2 separate regions of the Homo sapiens genome follow, and region 2 is linked to region 1. Evidence: fine-mapped expression QTL. Tissue or cell type: blood mononuclear cells. Region 1 holds a variant in brackets; the other region holds the start of a gene. All regions are shown on one strand. Distances are between the middles of the regions.

Region 1 (8,108 bases):
TGTTGCATAGTGAAGTTAACACCTTTTTTAAGGCTCTTCTATGTGCTTTTTGTTCTGTGATTTGTTTTATTCTTCACTGAACGTTTGGACATTTGGTGGTATTCTTCCAATGTTTAATAACTTAAAAAATACATTTAAAATAACTAATGCTTACGTTTTTCACTACAAATATTTCCCCATTCTGTTGTTTTCCTCTTTTTCTTAGTTTTGTGGTCCATATTTTTCTTTCTGATTTTTTTATTGCTTCATAACTTTAAAAGTTATCCTTCTTCCAGAGTTGACATTATGCTTTATCAAATAATTGCACTGATGATTTTTAAATTCTATACTTCTACTTGATTTGATGTTACCTAAATTTAACTCCTTAAATCAGCTGAGATACATTGTGCTGCCTTAGTAGGAGATAGGTAGAAAGGTGAGGATAGGAATAACATCTACCTTACACCATTGCTGTGACAAGTGAAAGACGCAATGCATGCATGTCTAACACTGCGCCTGGCAGGTAAAGAGCAGGGACTCAGTAAGTGACGAAAGCTATTAATTTAATTCTTATTATCAGTATCTAAAGTTGGATATCTGTAGAAGGAACACTGAGAGGTTTGTCACATACCAATTATAGGAGTAACATAGAACTGTAAAAATTTTATAAATTAATTGAAAATGACAACTCTAAATTCATATGTACAACTGCACATGAAATACATATAATCATAGATATAACTAAACATACACAGCAATACATTTACTTCTTTTTGATACTGCGAGTGATGTCAAGGGAAAAGACATTCACATTTCAAAGTTTAGTTTTATAAAATTAAATATTTCAAGAATATCAGTTAAAATAAAACAAAAGCATAACTCAGAAGCTAAAAATGGTAAAACCTTTGGCCAGGTTTTCATTTAAGTTTCTTTAGATTTGTGAGTTTTGTTATTATTTTTAGAATTTATTTATTAAGTTGTTTTTTTATTTCCATAGGTATTTGGGGAACAGGTGGTATTTGGTTACATGAGTAAGTTGTTTAGTGGTGATCTGTGGGATTTTAGGACACCCATCAATCAAGCAGTATACACCGAACCCAATTTGTAGTCTTTTGTCCCCCACCCCACTCCCACCCTTTCCTCCGAGTCCCCAAACTCCAATGTATCATTCTTATGCCTTTGCATCCTCATAGCTTAGCTCCCACTTATGAGTAAGAACATACAATATTTGTTTTTTGTTATTGTTTAAACAGTGAGTTTCAAAAGTGTTTCACTTTATAAAAGTACACTCAGAAATATGAATATCTATTGCCTTCTTATTCCTCACACTACCTCAGGAAAGCAAATACGTCATTGCAAATATACTAATGTAAGTTATGCTCTACCCTTCTAACCAATGACATAATTCTTAATTCTGTGATTTGAAATAAAAAATTGTCTCAGCACATGCTCTCAAGAAAAGCCTTGCACAGGCCGGGCGCGGTGGCTCACGCCTGTAATCCCAGTACTTTGGGAGGCCGAGGTGGGCGGATCACGAGGTCAGGAGATCGCGACCATCCTGGCTAACACGGTGAAACCCAGTCTCTACTAAAAAAGAAAAATGCAAAAAAAATTAGCTGGGCCTGGTGGCAGGCGCCTGTAGTTCCAGCTACTTGGGAGGCTGAGGCAGGAGAATGGCGTGAACCCAGGAGGCGGAGCTTGCAGTGAGCGGAGATCAAGCCACTGCACTCCAGCCTGGGCGACTGAGCGAGACTGTGTCTCAAAAAAAAAAAACAAAACAAAACAAAAAAGAAAGAAAGAAAAGCCTTGCACAGGCTTTCGGGAAGTTGATCAGGGCTTTACATGTAATTACAGAATAGCAACTAAGCCAGGGAACCTTTTGTGGCCCCTTACAGCTGCACTCTGAAAATTCAAGTGAATAAAATTAGAGTTGAAGTTATGAATAACAAGTTTTAGCCCTGGAACAATGCCTACTGTAACATTCTAGCATTTCAATTATGATCCTACCTGAGGCTGCCAACTAGGCTGGATCTTCCATGGAAATATTTTCTGCACACTTCTTACAATCTCTCCAATTTCTGTGTCTAATCTTCGTGACACATGTTGCCAATATTATCAAAGGAGACCAATTTAGCTGACAAGTGTACAGATTTTAGGTTCCATCCAAACTTTAAGGGGGCATAGTCTTTCCTAATATGCCCTATGTTTAAGGACACTTGCTCTGAAGTCATACAACTCAATTTCTCCCATCTCTTCTCTGCCCTCCCTATTACACCATCCCTTAGTTATCTTCTTCCCTCATTCCCTCCTCCCCCTTGCCCATTCTCTTCATGCTTTCTCCTCTTCATGTCTACGTCTAGCAAGCTGATGGCTCCCAGCAATGAAGTGCAGGTGAAATTCTGACATTGTATTTTTCTCAAATAAGCCACTCAGCCAGTAGATAGCTTGTCAACACCTTTAAAGTACCTAGGTGTCTGGCACTATGGGGAAGAAAAGCTGAATGAACTAATGTTTCCATCCTCACAACCTAGTTGGAAAGATAAAGCATGTTCATGTGAAAAGATAACTAGAAAGGCCAAGCAGGGGACAGCAAAATACTTTCTAACTTAAAATATGATTCAAAGTTAGATTTAGTAAGTTCTAAGCAACTATAGCCGAAGTTAAATCCTTTCAAGATAAAGGGCACCACACTGACCTCAGAAATAAGAGTGTAACCAAGTACCCCCATTTTTCTAAGTGGTAGTTTAATTATTTTTTTCTGTTCTTTTCTCCTTTCTCCTTTCCCCCTGCTTCCTATTTAGCCCTTTTTGAAATGCAAAATAACCTCTCTCCTCCCAGTCACCAGACTTTCCCTACAGCGCAAGTTCATCCGTGTGCCCCAAGATGGAGCTCTCCTCTAGAGTTGATAGTTGAAGTGCAGATCAAAGCATGTCCCCACAGAAATCCCACCTCCAGAGGGTCACCTCAGGAGGGCATGCTTTCCATTTAGCCACTTTTACAACTTATTTCTGCCCAGAAAGGCACCAACTCAACTGTCTGGTAGATAAGAAACCAGGGTAGCAGGGAGACCCCCTGCCCTTGCTCACTTCTCTGGTCAACTTAGAAAAGATTTCACTTTTGCTACAAAGGTGAAGCATCACATTTAAAACAAGACACTTTATGCCCCTTCCCCTAGCTAGCTTCGGAAATAAATTCACTTTTCTTGTACAAGGCCTTGCTCTTGTTAATTGGACTCTAAGTCCAATTAACCTGCTTTTTGGTTACAAGAGGAGGTGGTTATAGCCCAGGATTTTACCAAGCTGAGGTCCATCCTCCAACATTGAAGTCCATAGACCCTGAGTACTGTGCTGGTCAGTCCCAGGTGGGCAGATCCTTGAGAGTCATGAAATCTTAAGACCTCTCAGAACAATCCAGCCTCACTTGAACAGGTGTGTTTGCCACACAGTGGACTGCCTCATTGAATAGTGCCTTGTGCAGAACTAAAATACTGTGGCAAAGCTGTTCCTCTAATGGCTGAATATCTGATGGTGATGTTGATGTTTTTCTCTTTTCCAGTCAGGTCCAAGGTCATATCTACGGTGGACCACTCTTACAGGCTTAGCCTGAAAACTCTATGATTACCCTATAGACCCACCGCAAACACCAAGGTCTGTAAGGTAAAAGAAAAGAGTGGGCTCCCTGGACCTTGACTGCTTTTTAGCCTCTAAAAACAAAATACATTAGCATGAGAAGGAAAATGTATATGCTAAACAAAACACTCCTCCATGTAACCATGTGGTAAGTGGCACAAAAGAAGATGCACATAATGTATCAATGAAACTCTTTTTTGTGTGTGTGTGTGATGGAGTCTCACTCTGTCGCCCAGCCTGGAGTGCAGTGGCGTGATCTCGGCTCACTGTAAACTCCACCTCCCAGGTTCACGCCATTCTCCTGCCTCAGCCTCCTGAGTAGCTGGGACTACAGGCACCTGCCACCACGCCCGGCTAATTTTTTGTACCATTAGTAGAGACGGGGTTTCACCGTGTTAGCCAGGATGGTCTCAATCTCCTGACCTCGTGATCCGCCCCCTCGGCCTCCCAAAGTGCTAGGACCACAGGCGTGAGCCACCGCGCCCGGCCCAATGAAACTCTTAAACACATGGGAAATCACATTGTTTTCTTGTATAAGTAATACTGGATGTTCTCATTGTTTTCCCTACCTTTTATCTACTGCCTTTGTGAATATAATTCTTTGGGATCATAGTAGAAATCACATACTTACTTTATTATATTATCTGAGCACTCTGTAGATCAAGTATAATAATTGATCTCTCTGTGTTTTCTGAAAGTAAAGATAGTATCTGCCAACATACAAAACAACTGATAAGATTATGCAAACATAGCTTTGGGTTTATTCTACACAGAACTTAACTTTTCTTTTGCCCTTTGTCAAAAGTACAATAAAATGTGAAAGTTATAACAAAGTTCTCAACCAGCTCAGTTCAGTTCAGTAATTCTCAACAGGACAGTCAGCTATAGGCCACAAATTTCTGTGCCTGTATCCCTTAGAAAGAAAAGGAAGAACACATTCCAAAAGAATATTCCAGTGTATGTATGGAACAGGAATTAAAAGAAATTAAAGAGTGTGCAAGCAGAAACTCAG[T/C]TGTATGTAAGAAAACCCAATTCCCCCTAAGAAAGAGAAAGAGCTGAAGTCCTTTAAAATTAACTGCCTGTTTTTCTGTGGCTAGTGAGCCTTATCTCTCCCACTTTCCCAGGCATTGTGAAGACCCTGTCTCCTTAGCTGTGCAGCTGCAAGGTCACTAGACAGAAAAACTCAAGTTGCAAAACATGTTTTTCCTTGAAAAGTAAAAAATGATATAATGCATGTCTCAATTGCCTTTGTTTCTCACTTCTGTAGTATACTTTCCTCTGCACAGATCTCCCCCGACCCACGAAATGCTTAAAAGGTAACTTAACTCTGTTCAGGGCTCAGTCCTTTGGATGTTAATCCGACTGGACCAGTGCACCTAAATAATTAATAAATATCCTCCTGAGCCCCATTGGTCTCTCTGATTCCTTAAAAATCTCGTAACATTTCTGGGAACTCGCCTGGGATTGGAGACAACAGATTTACTGTCTCATTTGCCTGGGGGACTAGAGCCCCAGGGCTGGGGAGACCCAGCATCCAAGGCACGCCACAGGGGAGCTTCACCCAGACAGAGACTGGCTCTCCCCACATCCCAGCAGACTGCCCGGCAATGCAACAGAACCAGGAACAGGGCTGCAGGACGATGCCAGCACTTCAGGAACTGTAGTAAGGAGCAAGTGCCTAAGGCAGGGAAGCCTGTCCCATAAGGATGATCACCTCCCAGGGAATGACCACTAATCCAACCCAGAGCAGCTGGGGGTGGCAGGAGAGGCTTGCTAATTTGGATGAACCTCGTGTCCCCATTAACAAAGTGAAAGTGGTTTACTGGATCTGGAGACAGGAACTGGGAGTGTGTGGGTGTGTGTGAACCCACCCAGGACATGAGAGAGGCTCGTTTCGTCTGATGAGGAGTCCTGGGCAGGGGAGGTGTGTGAAAGTGTATGAAAGAGATGGTCTTGGGAGAGGCCAATGCGGGGAGTAACGTGAGGAGGCACAGATCCCTTAGGGCAGGCTGTGTACTCCAAGGTGAGCGTGGAAGAAATCAGACCTAGGATGCCGCATACGGCCAATGGGACCAGTTTCACAGCCACAGCAGGCTGTGACAGGGGAAGGCACATTCCTGGCTAAGCAGTGTCTGAAACTCCCATAAAAGGACCTGGTCTGGTGGATCTGAGAGTGAAAGTGAGAGGGAAAGTGCACTGCAAGGGAGGAAATGGGAGGAAAAGTGTCGAAGCCAACTCCTTTGGAGTGCGTGATAAAGAATTTTAAAAAAGGATTTAGAGGTGATTATGGGATGAAACTGGATGCTCAAAAGTTAAGGACATACTGTGAAATAGATTGGCCTGCTTTCAATGTGGGGTGGCCCTCTGAAGGTACAATAGACAGAAAATTAATTGGCCGTGTGTTTAACGTGGTCACCGGAGTTGGAAGACAACCAGGATACCCAGACCAGTTTCCCTATATAGACTCTTGGCTCAGTGTAGCACAAACTCACCCCAAGTGTCTACAGCCCTGTCTAAAGAGATATTATAAGGCATTAGTGGCTCAGGCAGCCCAACCAAAGGAAGAAAGAAAAACCAGATATAGGAACAGAGATGGCTCAATTTATAGCTGCTGCACTAGCAGAAAGTAACCCTGAATTTGCTAGAGGGCGTGGCCAAGGCAGAGGTCGAGGAAGGGGGCAGACAAGACCAGGAGAGGAAAGCCAATCTTGGTTGGACAGGAACCAATGTGCAAAGTGCAGGAAAATGGGCCACTGGAAAGATGAGTGACCCAAAAAGGAAAAGGATGGAAATGATGGTCAATGGTCTAACACCCAAGTGCGTTATTCGGTTGCTAGTCATGGTGCATCAAGGGCAGATCCTGATCTGATTGGCTTAGCAGGGGCCAAGAATTTTGAGGACTGAGACAGACCAGGCTCCATCTTTTTAGGCCCCGGGGAGCCTATGGTCTCTATGGAAATAGGGGGTCAATTAATGGATTTTTTTGGTCGATACTGGTACTGATTTCTCTGTGGTAACTCACCCAATTAGCCTCCCCACAAAGAACTGTGCTACTATTGTAGGGGCTACTGGGGCCAAAAAAAAGAGACCTTTTTGCAAATCCAGGAGATGTGTTATTGGGGGACAAGAAGTGCAGCATGAGTTTCCGTATATGCCAAATTGTCCAGTGCCCTTGCTGGGGAGAGACTTACTCCAGAAACTGCAGGCAGAAATTTTCTTTACGCCTAAAGGGAATATGACACTGGAGTTTGGAAAGTCCAAGGCAATGGTATGAACTCCAACTGTCCCAAGGGCTGAGGAATGGTGGCTGTGTGAACCGTGTGCCAGAAGGTCACCAGAACCGACCTACACAATATATGGGGGATGCTTTTCAAGGTACCAGGTGTATGGGCCGAGGATAATACCCTGGACTTGCTGCAAACAGACCCCCAGTGGTAGCAGAGCTTAACCCTCATGCTGCCCCGGTATGAGTCCGTCAATACCCAGTACCCAGGGAGGCAATTGATGGAATAACAAAAGCATCTGAATCGGCTTTATACACATGGGATTATAGTAAAATGCAAGTCCTCATGGAATACTCCTCTGTTACCCATGCACAAATCAAATGGGGAATACAGGCCAGTGCAGGATCTCCGGGTGGTAAACAAGGCCACTGTCGCTATCCATGCAACAGTACCCAACCCATACACAATGTTGGGACAGATTCCTGCTGATGCCACTTGGTTCACATGTCTGGACTTAAAGGATGCCTTCTTTTGTTTGAAGCTTGCTCCCCAAAGTCAGAGGGGGCAATCGCAATATACCTGGACAAGGCTGCCGTAAGGGTTTAAGAATGCTACCATTTTTGAGGAGGCCTTGGCTACAGATCTTGAGGCTTTTGCGCCACCTAGTGACAATTATGTGCTATTACAACACATTGATGATTTCCTATTTGCCGCCCCCACGAGGGAGGAATGACTCCAAGGAACAGAGAGGCTTCTTCACGTGCTGTGTGAAGCTGGTTATAAAGTGTCCAAGGACAAGGCAAAAGTCTGTTTTCAGGAGGTTGGATATCTAGGATTCATGGTATCCCAAGGCCAGCGCAGGCTTAAGTGCACGCAAGGAGGCTGTATGTGCACTGCCCACCCCAGTTACAAGGCCAGGGAATTTCTAGGCGTGGCAGGATTCTGCCGAATCTGTATTCCAAACTTCTCCCTTACAGCAAGGCCCTTGTATGAGGCTATAAAAGGAAAGGAAAGAGAGCCCCTCCTATGGCAAAAGAAACAGGAAAAGGCCTTCAAGGATATAAAGGAAGCTCTCATCCAGGCCCCGGCACTAGGGTTGCCAAATGTAAAAAAGCCCTTTTTTTGTATGTGGATGAATGTCAAGGAATGGCAGTTGGAGTCTTAACTCAGTTCTTGGGCTCTTGGCATCGGCCGGTAGCATACTTATCCAAAAGACTGGACTTGGTGGCTTTAGGTTGGCCCCACTGCCTCAGGGCATTGGCAGCTACCGCAATCC
Region 2 (8,108 bases), 53 kb after region 1:
TTGCTTAGGGGAAGAAACCACAGAGACTTGGCTAGTTTGCTTCCATTACGAAAAAGGTAATCTTGTTAAATAAACTTCATAAAGGAAAGTGGCTCCTTGAGGGGTACATCACTACAGACCCCCTCCTCCATAGTGCCTTGATAGTGGCCACTTTCTCTGAGGAGGAGGAGCAAGGTGGGGAGATGAGAGTGTATGTATACCAACGACCATCTCTTTCCTCAGCTGGGTACTATTTGGTCTCTGACAGATTTGGTCCACACATAATGAGTACCTAGTCACTGAAAAACATGTCTCAACCACCTTCGCAGAGACTATGGAGGTCCTGCAGCCCTCCTGGTGGTCTCTTGGGTCTACTACGAGGGAGTGGGAACGGTAGATGAGAAGATTAACCAGACTTAGATTTACGGGTTTGTTCATGCTGCTCCTGCTTGTTGTCAAGCCCAATTAAGCCACCTCCTGAGGTCAAGTCCATCAATCTGCAGTGTGATCCAGATCTTAACTCAGAAATTCTCAGGCACAGAAGAAATGGCTTCCGATAAAATAGCAAAATTTGACCCCTCCCCTCCAAAAAGGGAGCATAAAAATAGTACTTGAGTGCCCTCTTCTGGACTGTCTGGGCAAGGGCCTTCCCAAAGAGATCTCTGAGTCTGATTACTCAATAATGGAACCACGAAAGCAGATTGATGGGCTCCCCACTAAAAAATTCAGGGCCAAGTACCAGGCCATGGGGATTTGATAAGTGGTCCCGCTAGAGTCTGCACAGTGATGGCCTTCCACCTCTCCTGGTGGATTTGGAGACAAATCAGAGATCCTGAGCAACTTTTGCTCTGACACTCAGCTTTCAAATATAAACAAGATTAGGGGTTACAAACAAAAATCCAAAGATTTTAGGGGTTATAAACAAGATCCTTCTGTACTCAGGGGACCCAGAGGCCCTATGCCAAGGTTAGAGTTCAACTGAACAGTGGAGAGGAATTGCACTTCTTAGGCCTTTTAGATACCAGTACACAGGTGACTGTGATCCCCACAAACCCTTGCATCAAGATGAGGAGAAAACAGATCGTGTTCTCTGACTTTGGGCTCCTACTAACCTCCGTTGTCATGGCCCCCACTACTGAATGAAATATTGGCAGTGATGTGTTTTCCATGTGCAGCCCCACTTGCCTTTGCCTCCAAGCCCTGACAGGAATTGCAATAGTTATGGCCATCTTAGTGAGAAATATAGAAGACCATGGACCCATCTGATGACCAACACCTAGTACTGTTGTTTCCCAAAAAACAATGTCAGCTGCCTAGGGGAGAAAAAGAATAATTGCCATCATTGCTGAGCTTAAGGAAGCCAAAATGTTTCATGAGACTGTTTCTCCATTCAATAGCCCCATCTGGCCTGTGCACAAGACCTTGGTTTCTTGGAGACTTACCACTGATTTTAGGCAGCTCAATGCGTAATACCACCTTTGGCACCAGCAGTACCTGACATTGTGACTATTACAGAGGCCCAAAACAGAGAGAACTTGGTATGCAGCAATTGATATTGCAAAGGCATATCAAATTGTAGTCCCCAGTGTTGGAGATGGGGCCTGGTGAGAGGCGATTAGATCATAGGGGCAGATTTCCCCTCTAGTTTTGTTCTAATGATAGTGAGTAATCATGACATCTGGCTGTTTAAAAGTGTAGCATCGGCTGGGCATGCCCTCAGCCTCCCAAGTGTCTGGGATTACAGGCACTTGCCACCATGCCCCGCTAATTTTTGTATTTTTAGTAGAGATGGGGTTTTACCATGTTGGCCAGGTTGGTCTTGAACTCCTGACCTCGTGATCTGCCCACCTTGGCCTCCCAAAGTGCTGGGATTACAGGCATGAGCCACTGTGCCCAGCCTAGTCTCTAGCTTTTAACTGGATCTCAGCTCTGGGCAGAGCCCACGCTGAATCCTGGATCTCCAAAAGATAGAATTATCATGATTCTAGACCATGTGATGCATTTGCACTGCACTTTGTTACAAAGACTTTCCTCTAAGTGTCTAAAGTATACCTTTTCTTATCTTAAACACCCGAAGAGTAGCCTCTGTTGTAATAACTTAGTCCAAAAATCAGGTAACACAGTACAAAAGCAAGCAGTTTAAGATCTGAGAGGAACTTGTCTGTTTAGACTCTTGGGGTTCCATAAGGAAAAACAGATGTTTCTCCTCAAAAAGGACTCTAGTGCCTTCTCTGTTTTATTTAAGGAATTACAGGCTGTTAGAAACTATTTTGGGTCCCTCATGCAGCAGAGGGGAACAAGAGAAAGGAGAGATAGGCAGAAGTAAATGGAGAAAACAGAATTCATTTGACTGACTGAGAAGGAAAAAACCTTTTTCTCAAAAAACAAGGTACTAGGAGAGAAAAAAAAAACAGGCCAGGCACGGTGGCTTACGCCTGTAATCCCAGCATTTTGGGAGGCTGAGGAAGGCAGATTACCTGAGGTTGTCGGGAGTTTGAGACCAGCCTGACCAACATGGAGAAATCCCATCTCTACTAAAAATACAAAATTAACTGGGTGTGGTGTCGTATGCCTGTAATCCCAGCTATTTGGGAGGCCGAGGCAGGAGAATTGCTTGAACCCGGGAGGTAGAGGTTGCAGTGAGCCAAGATCGCACCATTGCACTCCAGCCTGGGCAACAAGAGTGAAACTCCTTCTCAAACAAACAAAACAAAACAAAAAACCATAAAGGCCTTTTAAATATACACACACACACACACATCGTGGATATTAGCTTTTAATTAAACTGACTTTTAGCCACTAAGCTCTTAAAAAATTCTTCTAAATCTCACTACCCTATTTTAGCTGGAACAAATTGCTGATATTTCAAAAATAACACAAATATCAAACCAGAAAGAACTTGATTTAGGAACCAAACCCAGGCTGTTGTGGTGGAAAAAAGGGCAAAACCTTAGCTACAGAACTGCAGTGTGGAGCACAGTTTGGCTTGGCTAGCAAAAGGTGGCCTTGTTATGTAAATAAAGCCCCTCAGGTAGTCAAAATCTTTCTTTTTTCCTGTTGATGGCTGTTTATCCTTTTCCCTTTTCCCCCCCAGCTGCAGGAATTTACCCAATGCAGAGGCGTTGTTCCTCACCATTTGTAACTTTCCTTCACATTTGATATAGTTGGGTAGAGTTAGTCAAATCCAATGGGAAAAAGACCAAAACAACAAAACAAACAAATAAATGAAAAAACAGTTTGGCAAAACAAACAAATGATCATACTATGTATACAATTCCTGAGCACTCTAATGGTAAGGAGAAATTAAGAGCTGCTGGTTGTTAATCTTAACTTTAGGTCATTAAGGAGAATTTTCAAGATAAAACCCCAATTCAGCTACTTACCTAGGAATGGAGTCCAGGCTCAACACTGCTCTCTACCAGCCTATAAGCAGGAAAAAAACTCCAACTCGCCTTCCCTGTTGGAATTGAGCTGAAACTCCAGAAAGGAGTTGCCTGCCCTCCATCATCATGGAAGCAGGAAAACTCACCTTCCTTGTTGAAAGTGAGTAAAACTCCAGAAAAGGAGTTGTACAGCAAAAAAAAACCTTAGATATCGACCAAATTTGGGGAGATCAGGGTGAGGGAAGAGACGGACCCTCTCATATTGTTTTATATTGTTTTATACTCAGTACCTGTTTTAAGAAAAAAACAAGGAAGTGAAACCAAGGGCAGGCAGCCAGGCACCAGACCCAAAACCAGAACTGAAACCAGGCCTGGGCCTGCCTGGCCTAAACCTAGTAGTTAAAAATCAACTCATGACTTAGCAACCGATGTTATCCATAGATTCCAGACATTGTATGGAAGAACGCTGTGAAACTCCCTGCTCTGTTCTGTTTCACTCTGACTACCGGTGCATGAAGCCCCTGTCACATACCCCCTAGATTGCTCAATCAATCACGACCCTTTCATGTGAAATCTTTAGTGTTATGAGCCCTTAAAAAGGACAGAAACTGTGCACTCGAGGAGCTCGGATTTTAAGACAGTAGCTTGCCGATGCTCCCAGCTGAATAAAGCCCTTCCTTCTACAACTCAGTGTCTGAAAGATTTTGTCTGCAGCTCGTCCTGCTACAAGGGATTGTCTGGAGGGGGGAAGTTCCCAGGCCTCAGCAAATCTGCCTATTGATTTGAGCAATAAAGATATCTCAAGCTGGTACCAAGCAGTAATAGAAGATTTGTCAAAGGTCAGGGGCACCTCCACTCAGAATCCCTTGGTGGTTACCAATTTGTAAACCAAAAAGTATCTGAGCTAGGTCTCAATTAACTTGGAAATTTTATTTTACCAAGGTTAAGAACATGCATCTGGAAGGCAGGTCTATGCCTTTTTCCAAAGAAGATTTTGTGGACTTCAGTATTTAAAGGCAAAAGGGCAGATATTGGGGGAAAAGGAAAAAAAATTAAAGGTGTGGGTAGATAACAGACAAATGGTTGCATTATTTTGAGTGTTTGATAAACCTTTCACTGAATACACAGTTTACATGTGAGAGAAGGGTAGAGGAATAGTTACTTATGCCTTTGTCAGCTCAGTGAATCTGCATTTTTACATTAGGAAAGCAATCAGATATGCATCTGTCTCAGATGAACAGAAGGATGACTTTGAGTTCTGTTCTTTGTCTAGAACCTGTGAAGATAAGCTATCAATTTACATTGTCAGGGTAAAATTCAACAGAACCATTTTAAGGTAAACATCTTGGGGCTCAAAAGGAATGTCCCAGTGGACAAATTGTGAGACATGTATGTAGCTTTTTTTTTTGTTTGTAGCTATCTTATTTAAGAATAAAATGGGAGGTAGGTTTGCCTGATGCAGTTCCCAGCTTGACTTTTCCCTTTGGCTTAATGATTTTGGAGTCCTGAGATTTATTTTCCTTTTACAAGACATTACCATTCCAAAAGAATGAATATGGGAGGCATAAAGTGGTTTCTTGTCCCAAGTAAGTTCAAAATTTAGCATGGCAGGGCCAGGTGTGGTGGCTCACGCCTATAATCCCAGCACTTTGTGATGCTGAGGTGAGTGGATCACTTGAGGTCAGGAGTTCGAGACCAGCCTGGGTAACATGGTGAAACCCCCCTCCTCGTCTCTACTAAAATACAAAAATTAGAGGGGCATTGTGGTGAGTTCCTGTCATCCCAGCTACTCAGGAAGCTGAGGCAGGAGAATTGCTTGAACCTGGCAGGTGGAGGTTGCAGTGAGCTGAGATTGTACCACTGCACTCCAGCCTGCGTGACAGAATGAGATTTCATCTCAAAAAAGTAAATAAATAAATAATTAGCATAGCTAATTCCATTAGATTTCAAGGCCTAGGAACAATCCTCTTTAGCTCAATGTTCTGCCATCTGGTCTTGCAGTGATCCACCAGCTTCTGTGCCACCCTCATAATTCACTCTTCCTTTTTCTTGAAGGCTAATGTGTCTTTGCAGTCTAGTAGCCCTGTCAGCTCATATCCTGCCTATAGATTTCCAGAAGTCCAACAGTCTTCCTTCATTTCATCCCATATCTATCTCCTTTACTCCAAGATGCCAGTATTTCTGTTGATATAACATTCTCAAAATCCTTATCAGTCTCGTGTGTGTTATGGGAGTCCATGTCATTAGACAAGATCCTTCCTGGATAAACCCATCTCTATTCCTGCCTTCAGCTGATATGGTTGATTGGATCCATGAATCACATATATAATCTCTTTAGCAAGATTGTCCAGCCATACTGTTGGCCTTCTCTTCAGAGTATGCTTTTGCGACAATAAATTTTCTAATTTTGGCATCCTTTGGAATCACGATAGGCTGAGAACCTCCAAAATCAAGTGCTAGTTACTTTTTGCCTAATAGTTCTTTCCTCAATTTATATCTTTCACATTGAAATGGGAGAGTTCACTGACCCCCCTTGCAGGGCCTGCAACAGGGGTGTGGCTCGTCTGTTTGGCCACTGCATGCTCAAACCCCTTATGGGAGGGGGAGCACGCATTTGAGCTAGGGCAAGCACTTTTGGGCTCTGGGCCTACAGCAATATCCAGGGATGTTACAATGCTCCTTTAGCCCTGCCATCCAGGGACAGCTTAAGTGTTAAACAGCTCAGTGCCCTCTTGGTACTGGGTTCCTGTCCAGCATCCAGGAAGAATCAGGTCACACAGACAAATTGAAGGATGGTAAATGTGGCGTATTTTATTGCTGGATGGAGGTGGCTCTCTGCAGGATGGATGGGGAGCTGGAAAGGGAATGGAGTGGGAAGATAATCTTCCCCTGGAGTTCAGTCGTCCCTTGGCTGATCTCCTCTCCTACCGTCCCCAGCCTAACTCCTCTTGATGTTCAGAAGCTCCTTCTCTTCTCTCCTTCTCTGCCACACCACTCTTCTGTTCCTCTGCTCTTCTGCTTGTCTGCTCATCTGCTTGTGGATCCTGGGGTTTGGAGTTTATACAGGTACAGGATACAGGGGCGTGGCAGGCCAAAAGGCAGCATTTGGGCACAAAAACAGGAACGCTTGTTCCCATTTAGGGCCACGGGTTTCCAGACTTGAGGGTGGGGCCTTTGCTGGGAAACCACCCTCTTCTACCCAGTATTTCCCTGTCTCCTGTCTGTATCAATATTACATTTTACTATAAGCAGCAAGGAGAAACCAGGTTATGAAGATAAGCTATCAATTTACATTGTCAGGGTAAAATTCAACAGAACCATTTTAGGGTAAAGATCTTGGGGTTCACAAAGAAAAATCTTAAGGATTTTGCCTGTAAATTTCTGCCAAATATCCAAGTTCATCACTTTCAAGTTCTGCTTTCCATGTGACTGAAGAACATAGTTCAGCCAAGTTTTCTGTCACTGTATAACAAGCATTGCCTTTCCTCCCATTTTCAGTAACATTTTCTTCATTTCTTTCCAAGACCTCTATACAATCAACTTTAATATTCCTATTTCTAACAACAGTCTCTTCAGGGCAATTTAGGTTTTTTTCTATCACGCTTCTCAAAAATTTTTCTAGTCTCTATCCATGGCCTAATTCCAAAGCCAATTCCACATTTTAGGTCTTTAGTACAGCAACATCCCACTTCTAGTTTCAAAATCTGTATTAGTCAGGGTTCTTTCAGAAAAAAAAAAAAAAAAAAACCAACAGGGTATATATGTATTTGATTTGTTTCAAGGAATTGCCTTAGATGATTGTGGGGTCCAGCTAGGTAAGTCCAAAATCTGTAGGGAACTTGGGAAGCCTAGAAACTCTCAGGTGGAAACTGAGGCTGCAGTCAGCAGGCAGAATTTCTTCTTCCTCTGGGCATATCAGTTTTGCTCTTAAGGCATTTCAACTGATTGGATGAGGCCCACCAAGATTATCCAAGACAGTCTCCTTTACTTAAAGCAACTGATTATAGATGTTAACCACATCTATATAATACCCTCACAGCAGCATCTAGATTAGTGTTTGAATAACTGGGTACCATCACCTAGCCAAGTTAACAAATTAAACTAACCATATCTATTCAACTAATTAAATATAGTAATACAACCAAATAAATGACATTTTTTTCCATGCAGTATTTCAAAATACTTAAGAGTAGGCAACATATTGGCCCAAGGTCAGTGGCTCTGAGGGTAGCTGGACCACATCAGTCAGAACTGCTATAAAATAAAATAAAATAAAATAAAATAAAAAATAAAAAAACCTTCTGGCTAACTGCACTTGCAAAAAATCAAGAGAAATCCAAGATACACAGCACCACTACAGTCTTCTAGCTTCAAATAGTTGTAATATGATTCACTCCTAGCAATAGAGTAAAAAGGTAAAGCTCAAGTTACAAGTTAATTGATATTTTCCATAGCATATACCATAAAGAAAGGTGAAAAATTCAGACCCTAATGCTGATTCTGACCAACTCTCATTTTCACCGGTTATTTTGCAGTCCCTCACTATTCAGCTGTGAAATTCATCTAAGGACATAAACTTAGTGTGTAATTTCTCCTCCGAAGGCAAAGTGGAAAGATATCAGAACTACACATTGACAGATTTAGTAATAGACTTAGTAATGTTGTTAATAGTCTTCTATATCCCTGACTGTCTGTAATAGAAATACAACTACTCGTTCTCTTTCTTCCTTTCCAGAGAAATGAGAT

What was found. PIP is the estimated chance that this variant, and not a neighbour inherited with it, causes the effect.
Region 2: RHOXF1-AS1 starts here. The variant in region 1 is fine-mapped to the expression of RHOXF1-AS1 in blood mononuclear cells (TOPMed, PIP above 0.99). The same link has a PIP of 0.9 or more in whole blood.

Annotation. Positions count from the first base shown.
Region 1 is chrX:120,085,159-120,093,266 of GRCh38, reverse strand. The region is part of intron 1 of RHOXF1-AS1 (RHOXF1 antisense RNA 1); the gene reads right to left. Among named protein-coding and RNA genes, the nearest start is that of RHOXF2B, 12 kb to the right of the region's middle. The variant T/C (reference allele first, on the strand shown) is at 4,621.
Region 2 is chrX:120,031,787-120,039,894 of GRCh38, reverse strand. It overlaps RHOXF1-AS1 (RHOXF1 antisense RNA 1), which reads right to left and starts at 3,659. Exons shown (of 5, transcript NR_131238.1): 1 at 3,363-3,659.